Homo sapiens: one gene and its partners. The protein of the gene in region 1 purifies or fractionates together with the protein of each later gene. This does not show direct contact. Each region holds a gene or a part of one and is shown in the gene's direction. Other genes may lie near its edges.

Evidence for each region.
Region 2: the proteins of CCIN (region 1) and CCZ1B purify together in Homo sapiens (co-immunoprecipitation; one large-scale study listed by IntAct). This does not show direct contact.
Region 3: the proteins of CCIN (region 1) and CCZ1 purify together in Homo sapiens (affinity purification with mass spectrometry, with the first as the bait; one large-scale study listed by BioGRID). This does not show direct contact.

Annotation. Positions count from the first base shown.
Region 1 is NC_000009.12:36,168,017-36,171,953, forward strand, and holds CCIN (calicin), read left to right. Parts: upstream 1-1,371; 5' UTR 1,372-1,486; coding exon 1,487-3,253; 3' UTR 3,254-3,318; downstream 3,319-3,937. UniProt on the Homo sapiens protein: Required for both nuclear and acrosomal shaping during spermiogenesis.
Region 2 is NC_000007.14:6,802,151-6,805,799, reverse strand, and holds part of CCZ1B (vacuolar fusion protein CCZ1 homolog B), read left to right. Parts: intron 1-744; coding exon 745-862; intron 863-3,649.
Region 3 is NC_000007.14:5,901,594-5,905,242, forward strand, and holds part of CCZ1 (vacuolar fusion protein CCZ1 homolog), read left to right. Parts: intron 1-63; coding exon 64-111; intron 112-1,067; coding exon 1,068-1,151; intron 1,152-3,500; coding exon 3,501-3,649. UniProt on the Homo sapiens protein: Acts in concert with MON1A, as a guanine exchange factor (GEF) for RAB7, promotes the exchange of GDP to GTP, converting it from an inactive GDP-bound form into an active GTP-bound form.

The DNA of each region.
Region 1 (3,937 bases):
GGTTGTGGTGAGCCGAGAACGCACCATTGCACTCCGGCCTGGGCAAGAAGAGCGAAACTGTCTAAAAAAAAAAAAAAAGAGAAATCTCAAGCACTGGTCTTAGGAGCAGTTTAGGGAGGGTTAGAATCTTGTAGCCTCCAGCTACATGACTCCTAAACCATAATTTCTAATCTTGTGGCTAATGTTAGTCCTACAAAGGCAATCTAGTCCCCAGGCAAGAAGGAGGTCTGCTTTGGGAAAGGGCTGTCTTTGTTTAAACCGTAAACTATACATATAGGTTTCTCCCAAAGTTAGTTCAGCCTTTGCCAAGGAATGAGCAAGGACAGCTTGGAGGTTAGAAGCAAGATGGAGTCAGTTAAGTTGATCTCTTTCACTGTCTCAGTCATAATTTTGCAAAGGCTGTTTCAAGCTGAGATCGCACCACTGCACTCCAACCTGGGTGACAGAGCGAGACTCTGTCTCAAAAAAATAAAAATAAAAATAAAAATAAACTCATAATAATCTTTGAAGTGGGTACTACTATCAAATATTAGTTCCATCTCACAGAGGAGGAAACTGAGGTTTAGAAAGTCTGATCAACTCGCCCAAGTCCACCTTTGATGGAGAAAGCTGACCCACTGAAGCCCCCAACATTTTCCAACTGGACACTTGGAAATGTTGGGGGAACATTCTAGTTTGCCAAGGAGCTGAAATCATCCGGTCTTTAAAGACCCTCCCATGCCCCCGTTTGTGGTTAACTCCTTCATCCCTGCTCCAGGGAGTGGCCTCCACCTCTCCATTTTGAAGGAGAATGATGTCTGTGGCCACCAAGGTCAGAAGCCAAAGGACAGAGCTTTTCTCTGATGCCCAGGAGCCTTGGCAGGAAGAGTGCTTGGAGAGTTGAGAGTCAGAGACTGGGGAAAGCTGGGTAGTCAGGAGCTTCCAGAAGGGTAGGAAGAATGCGAGGTTCCCCAGGTTCTGGGCCCTGCTCGGCTTCCAACTGGCTATGTGATTTTGGGCAAGTGCCTTCTCTTCTCTGGGCCTCAGTTTCCCTCAAAATGGGAGGATTCTTCTAGGTCTAATAATCTCTTCCCTTTCCCCACCTCCCCTTATCTCTCCTACACAAACTGCTCCCCACTGCCCCACCCAGACTGGCTCTGATATTCCAGAAGCCTTTAACTACGGTTTGAAAGTCCCAGGTGGAAGTTGCCGCCCATCCCTGAGGTTCCTCCTGAGCTCTGGGCCCAGGGCTTTAGGTCCTGCTAGGGTATGTGGCCTTGGCAGGTTGGAGAGATCAGAGGGGAGGAAGGCCCAGTGCCTCTGAGACAGGCCTCAGGGAGGCCTGCATTGTGATGACCTGATCCACTCTATGACATCATCCTCTCTTCCACCCTCTCTTCTCCCTGGTCAACCGCTCTGCAAACAACCATCAATCTGATCCCACAGGCCTGAGAAAGTCTGCTCTCCAGTACCTGCTGCTGATCTGTTTCAGCCGACAAGAGGCACCATGAAATTGGAATTCACGGAGAAAAACTACAATAGCTTCGTGCTGCAGAACCTGAACAGACAGAGGAAACGCAAAGAGTACTGGGACATGGCCCTGAGTGTGGACAACCACGTCTTCTTTGCACATCGCAATGTGCTGGCTGCTGTCTCCCCACTGGTGAGGAGCCTCATCTCCAGCAATGACATGAAGACCGCTGATGAGCTTTTCATCACCATTGACACCAGTTACCTGAGCCCGGTCACAGTGGACCAGCTTCTGGACTACTTCTATAGCGGCAAGGTGGTGATCTCCGAGCAAAATGTGGAGGAGCTGCTTCGTGGGGCTCAGTATTTCAACACACCACGCCTTCGAGTTCACTGTAACGACTTCCTTATTAAGTCCATCTGCCGTGCCAACTGCTTGCGCTACCTCTTCTTGGCTGAGCTGTTTGAGCTCAAAGAGGTATCAGACGTAGCTTACTCTGGCATTCGGGACAACTTCCACTACTGGGCCAGTCCTGAGGGCTCCATGCACTTCATGCGCTGTCCACCTGTTATCTTTGGCCGCCTGCTCCGTGATGAAAACCTTCACGTGCTCAATGAAGACCAGGCGCTCAGCGCACTCATCAATTGGGTGTACTTCCGGAAGGAGGATCGGGAGAAGTATTTCAAGAAGTTCTTCAATTACATCAATCTCAATGCTGTCTCCAATAAGACGCTGGTGTTTGCCAGCAACAAGCTGGTGGGCATGGAGAACACCTCATCCCATACAACCCTGATTGAGAGTGTCCTGATGGACCGCAAGCAGGAGCGGCCATGCAGCCTGCTGGTCTACCAGCGGAAAGGGGCCCTGCTTGATTCCGTGGTCATCCTCGGTGGCCAGAAGGCCCACGGCCAGTTCAATGATGGAGTGTTTGCTTATATCATCCAGGAGAACCTGTGGATGAAGCTCTCAGACATGCCCTATCGGGCAGCAGCACTTAGTGCCACCTCTGCTGGTCGCTACATCTACATCTCTGGTGGCACCACTGAGCAGATTTCAGGGCTGAAGACAGCCTGGCGGTATGACATGGATGACAACTCCTGGACCAAGTTGCCTGACCTGCCCATCGGGCTTGTCTTCCACACCATGGTGACCTGTGGGGGGACAGTGTACTCAGTGGGCGGGAGCATTGCCCCAAGGCGGTATGTCTCCAACATCTATCGCTATGATGAGCGGAAGGAAGTCTGGTGCCTGGCAGGAAAGATGAGCATCCCCATGGATGGCACCGCCGTGATCACTAAAGGAGACAGGCATCTGTACATTGTCACTGGACGGTGCTTGGTGAAAGGTTATATCTCCCGGGTCGGGGTAGTGGACTGCTTTGACACCAGCACTGGGGACGTGGTCCAGTGTATCACCTTCCCCATTGAGTTCAACCATCGGCCCCTGCTCTCTTTCCAACAGGACAACATCCTCTGCGTGCACAGCCACCGGCAGAGTGTGGAAATCAATCTGCAGAAGGTGAAGGCAAGCAAGACGACCACCTCAGTGCCTGTCTTGCCCAACAGCTGCCCCTTGGATGTGTCCCATGCTATATGCTCCATTGGAGACAGCAAGGTGTTTGTATGTGGGGGTGTCACCACTGCCAGCGATGTCCAGACAAAGGACTACACCATCAATCCAAATGCCTTCTTGCTGGACCAAAAGACAGGCAAGTGGAAGACCCTGGCTCCTCCACCAGAGGCACTGGACTGTCCTGCCTGCTGTCTAGCCAAGCTACCTTGCAAGATTCTTCAAAGGATTTAAACATTTTAAGTGGGAGAATAAGTAAATGCATTATTATTCACGATTTAATGAGAGAAAGAGAGGAAGATGGCCTGTTGTTTCCTTCTTAGTGTTCCAGTCCATGCTTGGCCCTGAAGGTGGAGATCCTAGGGGAGGGCTGCTCCCAGTGGGTGGAAACTCAGGGCCACTATGTCATTGGAGGTATCCAACAGGGCCTGGAAAGGAACCCCTGGTGGGTGGAATTGAGGCCCCTCCCAGGCACTGGCCAAGGCGATGTCTGTCCCCTATTCTGTACCCCTGTGATCACCTCTCAGGCATCTGCTAGATTGGCAGGTAAACATCCACTCAGAGCTGTGAAGCATCAAGCTCCTCCAGCACCTGCTTCCCTCCGGTCTTTCACAAAAGCAGGGGAGGACCCGTCCCAGGTCTGAGAGAGGAATCTCATGGCCAGGAAGGAGAAGGTGACCTGGGTAAGACTCAGAAAAGAAGGCAGAAGGAACAGGGGAGGCAAGGTTACTTAGCTTCTGTATTTGCCCATGCAGCTACGGTAGTTTGTGTCTCATTTGTGGGAAAGCTGGAGGTTCCTTACAATTGTTTCTACTAAGCCAAGTACATTGAGAACTTTCTCCAGGAATATGAGTCTGAGGGACTGGGGATAAAAGAGAGGCCAGTAAAGGGAAAAGAAAGAAACATATCCTGGTCGGG
Region 2 (3,649 bases), on another chromosome or scaffold:
CTCCTAAGTCGCTGGGACTGCCAGTACACACCGCCGGACCCAGCTAATGTTTTTGTGGTTGTTTGTTTAGACAGGGTCTCACTATGTTGCCCGGGCTGGTGTCAAACTCCTGGGCTCAAGCGATCCACCCATCTTAGCCTCCCAAAGTGCTGGGATTTCGGGCGTGAGCCCCCACACCCAGCCCATTAAATGATAAATGTGTTGTCATAAGCAATATAGAGGCATAGAGAGGAGCCCTGTTCCCCATCTGGGACCCCCCTGTCTCCTTAACTAGCCAGTGCTCATATTTTTTAAGTCCTAGTTTTCCCGCTAGTCAGCAGTAGAGTGTGGGCATCTTTCTGTGTCCCACCGACTGCGAGCTGGAGACAGCAGTGGTACCTCTCTCGGGGGGGTTCTGAGGATCGAATGAGGTCATGTCTGTGAAGCACCTGGCCCATGAGTGCTACGTAATGTTTGTTAAATAAACATACGACCTTCTGAGGTCTTTCTGGGGTAGGCAACCGTTTACCACCCTACAGGGTGTGCCTCGGTCAGCTTTTCACGGTGAGATAGGTCTTCGCCCTTTTTTCATCTGAAATGTAACCGGTTTTCTATCTTCTGTTTCTCTTCTATTTGAGGAGCAGAAGGGGGCCTGAGCATTCATTGTTTGTTTTCCCAGACCAGTGAAGTTTTCGTTTGAATACTGTTGTTCAGTGTCGCACAGTAAAATGAATCTTACTGGTATTTTTTGTCATGACTTGCCAGCCTCTGTCCACCCAACGTTGGATTTTTGCCGAAGACTGGACAGCATCGTTGGGCCCCAGCTCACAGTGCTGGCCTCTGACATCTGTGAACAGTTTAACATCAACAAGAGGATGTCTGGGTTTGTACTTTGCTTTCGGTTCACTTTCAGGCATTGAACGGCTTTTGAAATACACGTAGTTTTCACTTACAAATACGGGTGGTATTAACAGTCCTGTGTTCTCGTGGACTGTAGAGGATGGTGCTACGTGCCATTCAGGCCTCTGTCTGAAAGGGTCCCGGGGACAGTCACCCTGAGTGTTTCTGCCCCACGCTGGCAGCTGGGGCTGGGCCTTCTGGTAAATACCTTCCCTCAGCTCCCCCCGAATGGAACGTCCCATTTCACCAGCCCAGATTGTTACGTTCACTTGGACAGTAGTCATCGGCGTGGTCTTGGTGTGCACAGACTGAAAGCATTTTGCCTCTCGTTGTGTGAAAATGTGTAGGGGAAACTGGCTGGGATGTGGGGCACTGGGCCTGGGTACTCAGTCTGGCAGCCTGAAGTGTCTACACTGAGTGGGAGAGGCGGGATTCACTCCTCCGGCTCTCTAGACACTGAAATGTCCTTGAATTCTTTCTCCCTGGCTTTTTTTTTGAGACAAATTCCCACTCTGTCGCCCAGGCTGGAGTGTGCAGTGGCTTGATCTTGGCTCACTGCAGCCTCCGCCTCCCAGGCTCAAGCGATTCTCATGCCTCATCCTCTTGAGTAGCTGGGATTACAGGCGTGCACCACCATGCCCGGCTCCTTTTTGTATTTTTAGTAGAGACGGTTTCACCATGTTGGCCAGATTGGTCTTGAACTCCTGACCTCAAGTGATCCACCTGCCTCAGCCTCCCAAAGTGCTGGGATTACAGGTGTGAGCTACCGCACCCGGCCATGCCTATCTTTTCTCAATATAAAATAGTTATTATAAAGTGAAAGTGAGGCGATGGAAAGCACTTTGCGAAGTTGAAGTCCTGCTTTTAAATGGGCTCTCTACACATTTGAGAAGTTACTAAAAGGCTGTGAATTTCTGCATACGCTCATGGTCTTAATGTTCATACGTTGTTTTTTGGGTTTTTTTTTTTTTTTTAAGACAGAGTCTCAGTTGCCCAGGCTGGAGTGTGCAATGGTCTGTTCTCAGCTCACTGCAACCTCCGCCTCCCAGGTTCAAGCGATTCTCCTGCCTCAGCCTCCTGAGTAGCTGGGTGCCATCATGCCTGGCTAATTTTTGTATTTTTGTAGAGACTGGGTTTTACCATGTTGGTCAGACTGGTCTCGAACTCCTGACCTCGTGATCCACGCACTTCGGCCTCCCAAAGTGCTGGGATGACAGGCGTGAGCCACCGCGCCCGGCCCATATGTTATTTCTGCATGGTCTTGTATAACCGTGGGCCTCTAAGAGCGCAGAAGCGAGCAAAGGTGAAAGCACCTCTAGGTTTTGTACAACAGTGTGTGGATTACTGCTGTCAACAGCTTACATCTTTGTTGCTTTTTGTTTTTATTTTTTGAGACAGAGTTTCACTCTTTCACCCAGGCTGGAGTGCAGTGGCATGATCTCAGCTCACTGCAACCTCCAGCCCCTGAGTTCATTCAAGCAATTCTCCTGCCTCAGCCTCCCGAGTAGCTGGGACTCCAGGCGTGTGCCACCACACTCAGCTAATAATTTTTGTATTTTTAGTAGAGACAGGGTTTTGCCATGTTGGCCAGGCTGGTCTTGAACTCCTGACCTCAGGTGATCCACCCACCTCGGCCTTCCAAAGTGCTAGCATTACAGGCATGAGCCACCATGCCCAGCCAACAGCTTATATCTTGACAGTGCTGCTGAATCATTGAATCCTTTGGCCGTGAAAATACCAGGTTTTCCTTTGTGAAGGAGGCAAAAGTGAGTTAAATCGGTTTGGATCATGCAGGTTATCAACTAACAGATGGAAAGTGACAAAGTGTAGTGACCATAGAGAACGTGTCACCTGTTTTGTTTTTTTGTGGGTTTGTTTTTGGAGACAGGGTCTCCTGCTGTCGCCCAGGCTGGAGTGCAGTGGTGCAATCATGGCTCACTGCAGCCTTGACCTCCCAGGCTGTAAGTGAGCCTCCTACCTCAGCCTCCCCGGGAGCTAGGACTACAGGTGTGTGCCACCACGCCTGGCTAATTTTTGTATTTTTGGTAGAGGCGGGGTTTCGCCATGTGGCCTAGGCTGATCTCGAACTCCTGACCTCAAGTGATTTGCCTGCCTCAGCCTCCCAAAGTGCTGGGATTATAGGCGTGAGCCACTGCTCCTGGCCTCACAGAGTGTTTTGAGGATAGAAGCTTACACCCGATTTAAGTTCCTTGTCTACCCAGACAACTAAATTTACAACTCTTTCCAAACAGTTTTTCTTGTCATTATACTTTCCTTAACCTTAGGGAACTATGAAAACAAATTCTGGTTTTATAAGAAGTTTCTTTACATGTTCCTGGAAACTCAATCCTCCACGTTCTTTCTTTGCCTGGACGTAGAGTATTTCATGAGTACCCCATTGGTCCGGAGGTCGGATTTCTGGTACCCCCAGCCCTCCAGAACGTGGCTGCTAACCCTGAAGCAAGCAGAGGAGGCCTCTGAGCCCAGGGGCGGGGCTGTGCTCAGGCCCCATCCAGGCCCCAGGGTGGACACTGAGGGTGCAGGGAGGGGAGGGGAGGGGCCCCAGGAGCAGTGAGGCCCAGCTTTTCCCACTAGGTCCCCGAGGAGGTCACAGACTCTGACCTGGGAGGCAGCGTCGTAGCACTGCCTAGTCAGTTTAAGAAATAAAAAGGTATATCCCATTTAAAATGTTCATCAGACTGCAGTGGAAAAGGCGACTGCGTTTTACAGTGATGTCCACTGGGGATGATATGAGGGAAAGCTTCGTTAC
Region 3 (3,649 bases), on another chromosome or scaffold:
TCTATCCAGTAGACATTGTTTTTCCCTTGAACTGAGCTGTGTGCTGTGTTTTCGCGTCTGCAGGACAAGGTTTATAGCTCGGTGCTGCGGCAGTGCTACAGCATGTACAAGGTAAGCGTGGCGTTCTTTCTCAACTCAGAGTCCAGCCACTTACCCCTATCTCTAGGCTCCAGGGTTGTTTAAAGAGAAATCTGTAAATGACTGCAAAGTGACTCTGTATTTGTCTTAGAGAAGAAAATAATGAGGCCTTTGAAACAGGTAGTGAGGTTTATGCCTACATTTATTCAGTAAGTATTGAACTCCCTTCTCTTTTCTCAGCCTTATAGTAGGAATGTGTCCCCATTGATGAAAAAGTGTGTCTATGTGCTCAAGGAATGTACAGAATGCAGATAATTTTATGATTTAAAAGTTTCAGTGAGGCAGGGCACAGTGGATCACACCTGTAATTTCAGCATTCTGGGAGGCTAAGGTGGGAGGATTGCTTGAGCCCAGGAGTTCAGGACCAGTCTGGGCAATATAGCAAGAACCCATCTCTACAAAAAATTTTTATAAAAGTTAGCCAGGTATCATGGTGCATGCCTGTAGTCCCAGCTACCTGGGAGGCTGAGGTGGGAGGATCGCTCGCGCCTTGGAGGTCGAGGCTGCAGTGAACTGTGATTGCACCACTGCACTCTACCCTGGGCAACAGAGCGAGATTCCATCTCAAAAAAAAAAAAAAAAAGGATAAAAAGTTTGGTGATTCCATTTATTAACAGAACACTGAAAAATAAAAAAACAGAAATGTGGGTGATATTATGTATGTAAATTGAAACTTCAGGGTAAGTTGAAATTTTTGAAAGATGCCTAGAGCAATTAGGTGGTTTCATAAATAAGACAGCATCACTTAACAGTATTTTTTGTAACTTACATTTTTAACTCAAGTTTTCTCATGTAAATATTCTCTGTTGGAAAGAACTGGGAGATTTAATGAGCTGAATTAATAATCTAAAGGAAAAAAAGAACTTGTTATACTGAAAAAGTGAGCATAGGAAACTGATTTTTTTTCCTGCAATCTTTTACCTCACTAGCTTTTTAATGGTACATTTCTGAAAGCCATGGAAGACGGAGGCGTCAAGCTTCTGAAAGAAAGATTAGAGAAATTCTTCCATCGGGTAAGTATTTTGAATTTCATTTATAACTTTAGTAAGCATTCAGCAGGTTTTTAGAGAAATATAGACAGACAAGTTTGTTTCTTATATACAAAAAACCCAGAACTTGAAAGTGGCAAAGAGCCTGAGACAGACCGTCGCAAAACTGGAGCAGCGAGGAAACGCATGAGGCTTGTGCTCTGGAACCTTCCCTCCAGCTGTGGTGTAAGGCAGAGCTTCCTGCGTTTGCCCGGGGCTCTTAAAGGGTCCTGGAGACATCGTTTGGCCTCCCTGTGTTTTACCTGCATCTGTCCTTCTGGGCTTACTCAGCAGCCATCTTTTGTGTGATAGATTAGTTGATAAGGAAAACTTAATTATTGGAGTTGCACAATCTCAGGGATTGGTTCTGTTCACTAAACGGGCGTGAACCGTCTTGATGTAGGTAAGAGTTACTGGCCTTGACAGACTTTGTCAGATTAGCGATTGGGGAGATTTGTTCCAAGTGCTGTCCTCTTTCGTTGTAATTGAATTTTGCATGTTTCACCCTACCTTGTCAAGCTCAGTTTATCTTTTTTTTAAAAGGAAACAAAGAGACAGGGTCTTGTCTTGGTTGTTTTGCCCAGGCTGGTTTCAAGCGATCTTCCCTCCTTGGCCTCCCAAAGTGCTGGGGTTAAAGGCATGAGCCAACTCGCCCAGCCTAGTTTATCTCGAAGCAACAATTCTCAATTTATTTTCTTCTGAAAATACCTTCTGTATCTATTTTTGAATTCGACTTTCTAAAACAGCTTTCATAGCTATTTTTGAATTTTTTTGTTTCTCTGAATTACTTTTCTTTGTTTTGTCATTTTAATGACCACAGTTATCCACTCGCATATTATCTCCTGGTTTCTGTTCTTGTCCTCATTTCTCTCTTACCCATCAACATATGGATAGAACTGTTGTCCTGAGTACATATCATTTAGACATGATTTTAGTATAAGATGGCACTCTTGGCTGGGTGTGGTGGCTTACGCCTGTGATCCCACCACTTTGGGAGGCCGATGCGGGCAGATCTTGAGGTCATGAGTTCGAGACCAGCCTGGCCAACATGGTGAAACCTCATCTCTACTAAAAAATACCAAAAAACTAGCTGGGCGTGGTGGCGCACGCCTGTAATCCCAGCTATTCTGGAGGCTGAGGCAGGAGAATCGCTTGAACCCCGGAGGCGAGGTTGCAGTGAGCCGAGATCACACCGCTGCACTCCAGCCTGGGTGACAGACCAAGACTCCATCTCGGGGGGGGAAATAAAGATGGCACTCTCTGTAGTATTAATGGATAGATCCCTCATTAGGTTAGTCTAATTTGAAGAGCATTAAGGCAGGGAGTTAATTTTTTTTTTTTTTTTTTTTTGAGACAGAATCTTACTCTTGTCACCCAGGCTAGAGTGCAATGGTGTGATCTTGGCTCACTGCAACCTTAGTCTCCCAAGTTCAAGTGATTCTCCTGTCTCAGCCTCCTGAATAGTTGGGATTACAGGCTACCACGCCCGGCTAATGTTGTAATTTTATTAGAGACGGGGTTTTGTCATGTTGGCGAGGCTGGTCTCAAACTCCTGACCTCAAGTGATGTGCCCGCCTTGGCCTCCCAAAGGGCTGGGATTACAGGCGCGAGCCGCTGTGCCTGGCCAGGAATTAAAAACTTGAAAGTGCTAGCTGGGCACAGTGGCTCATGCCTGTATTCCCAGCGCTTTGGGACGCCTAGACACGAGAATCACGGAGGCCAGAAGTTCAAGACCAGCCTAGGCAACATAGCAAGACTCTGTCTATACCAAAAAAAAAAAAAAAAATTTTTGGCCAGGCGTGGTGGCTCACACCTCTAATCCCAGCACTTTGGGAGGCCGAGGCAGGCAGATCACGAGTCAGGAGATTGAGACCATCCTGGCTAACATGGTGAAACCCCATCTCTACTAAAAATGGAAAAAAATAGCTGGGCATGGTGGCAGGCGCCTGTAGTCCCAGCTGCTCAGGAGGCTGAGGCAGGAGAATGGTGTGAACCTGGAAGGCGGAGCTTGCAGTGAGCTGAGATCGCACCACTGCACTCCAGCCTGGATGACAGAGCAAGACTCTGTCACAAAAAAATAAATTTAAAGCAGTAAAACACAATACTGAATAAACATTAAGTAGATATGTTTGAACTTTGTATCTTGGAATTGGTACTGAGACTGAGTTGGCACTCAGTTACCCATGTCTTCACCACGGCCTCATTGTTGCGCTGTTTGCTAGTATGTAATTGTACCATAAATGTGAGTCTGACATAAGATTATTTTCAGTTATCAAGGAGCATTATATTCAGTGTACTATTAGTAAATTTTATGCCTTATTTTTTTTCCCACAGTATTTGCAAACGCTACATTTGCAGTCATGTGACCTACTTGACATTTTTGGTGGAATCAGCTTCTTCCCGTTGGATAAAATGACTTATTTGAAAATCCAGTCCTTTATTAATAGAATGGAGGAAAGCCTGAATATAGTCAAATACACTGC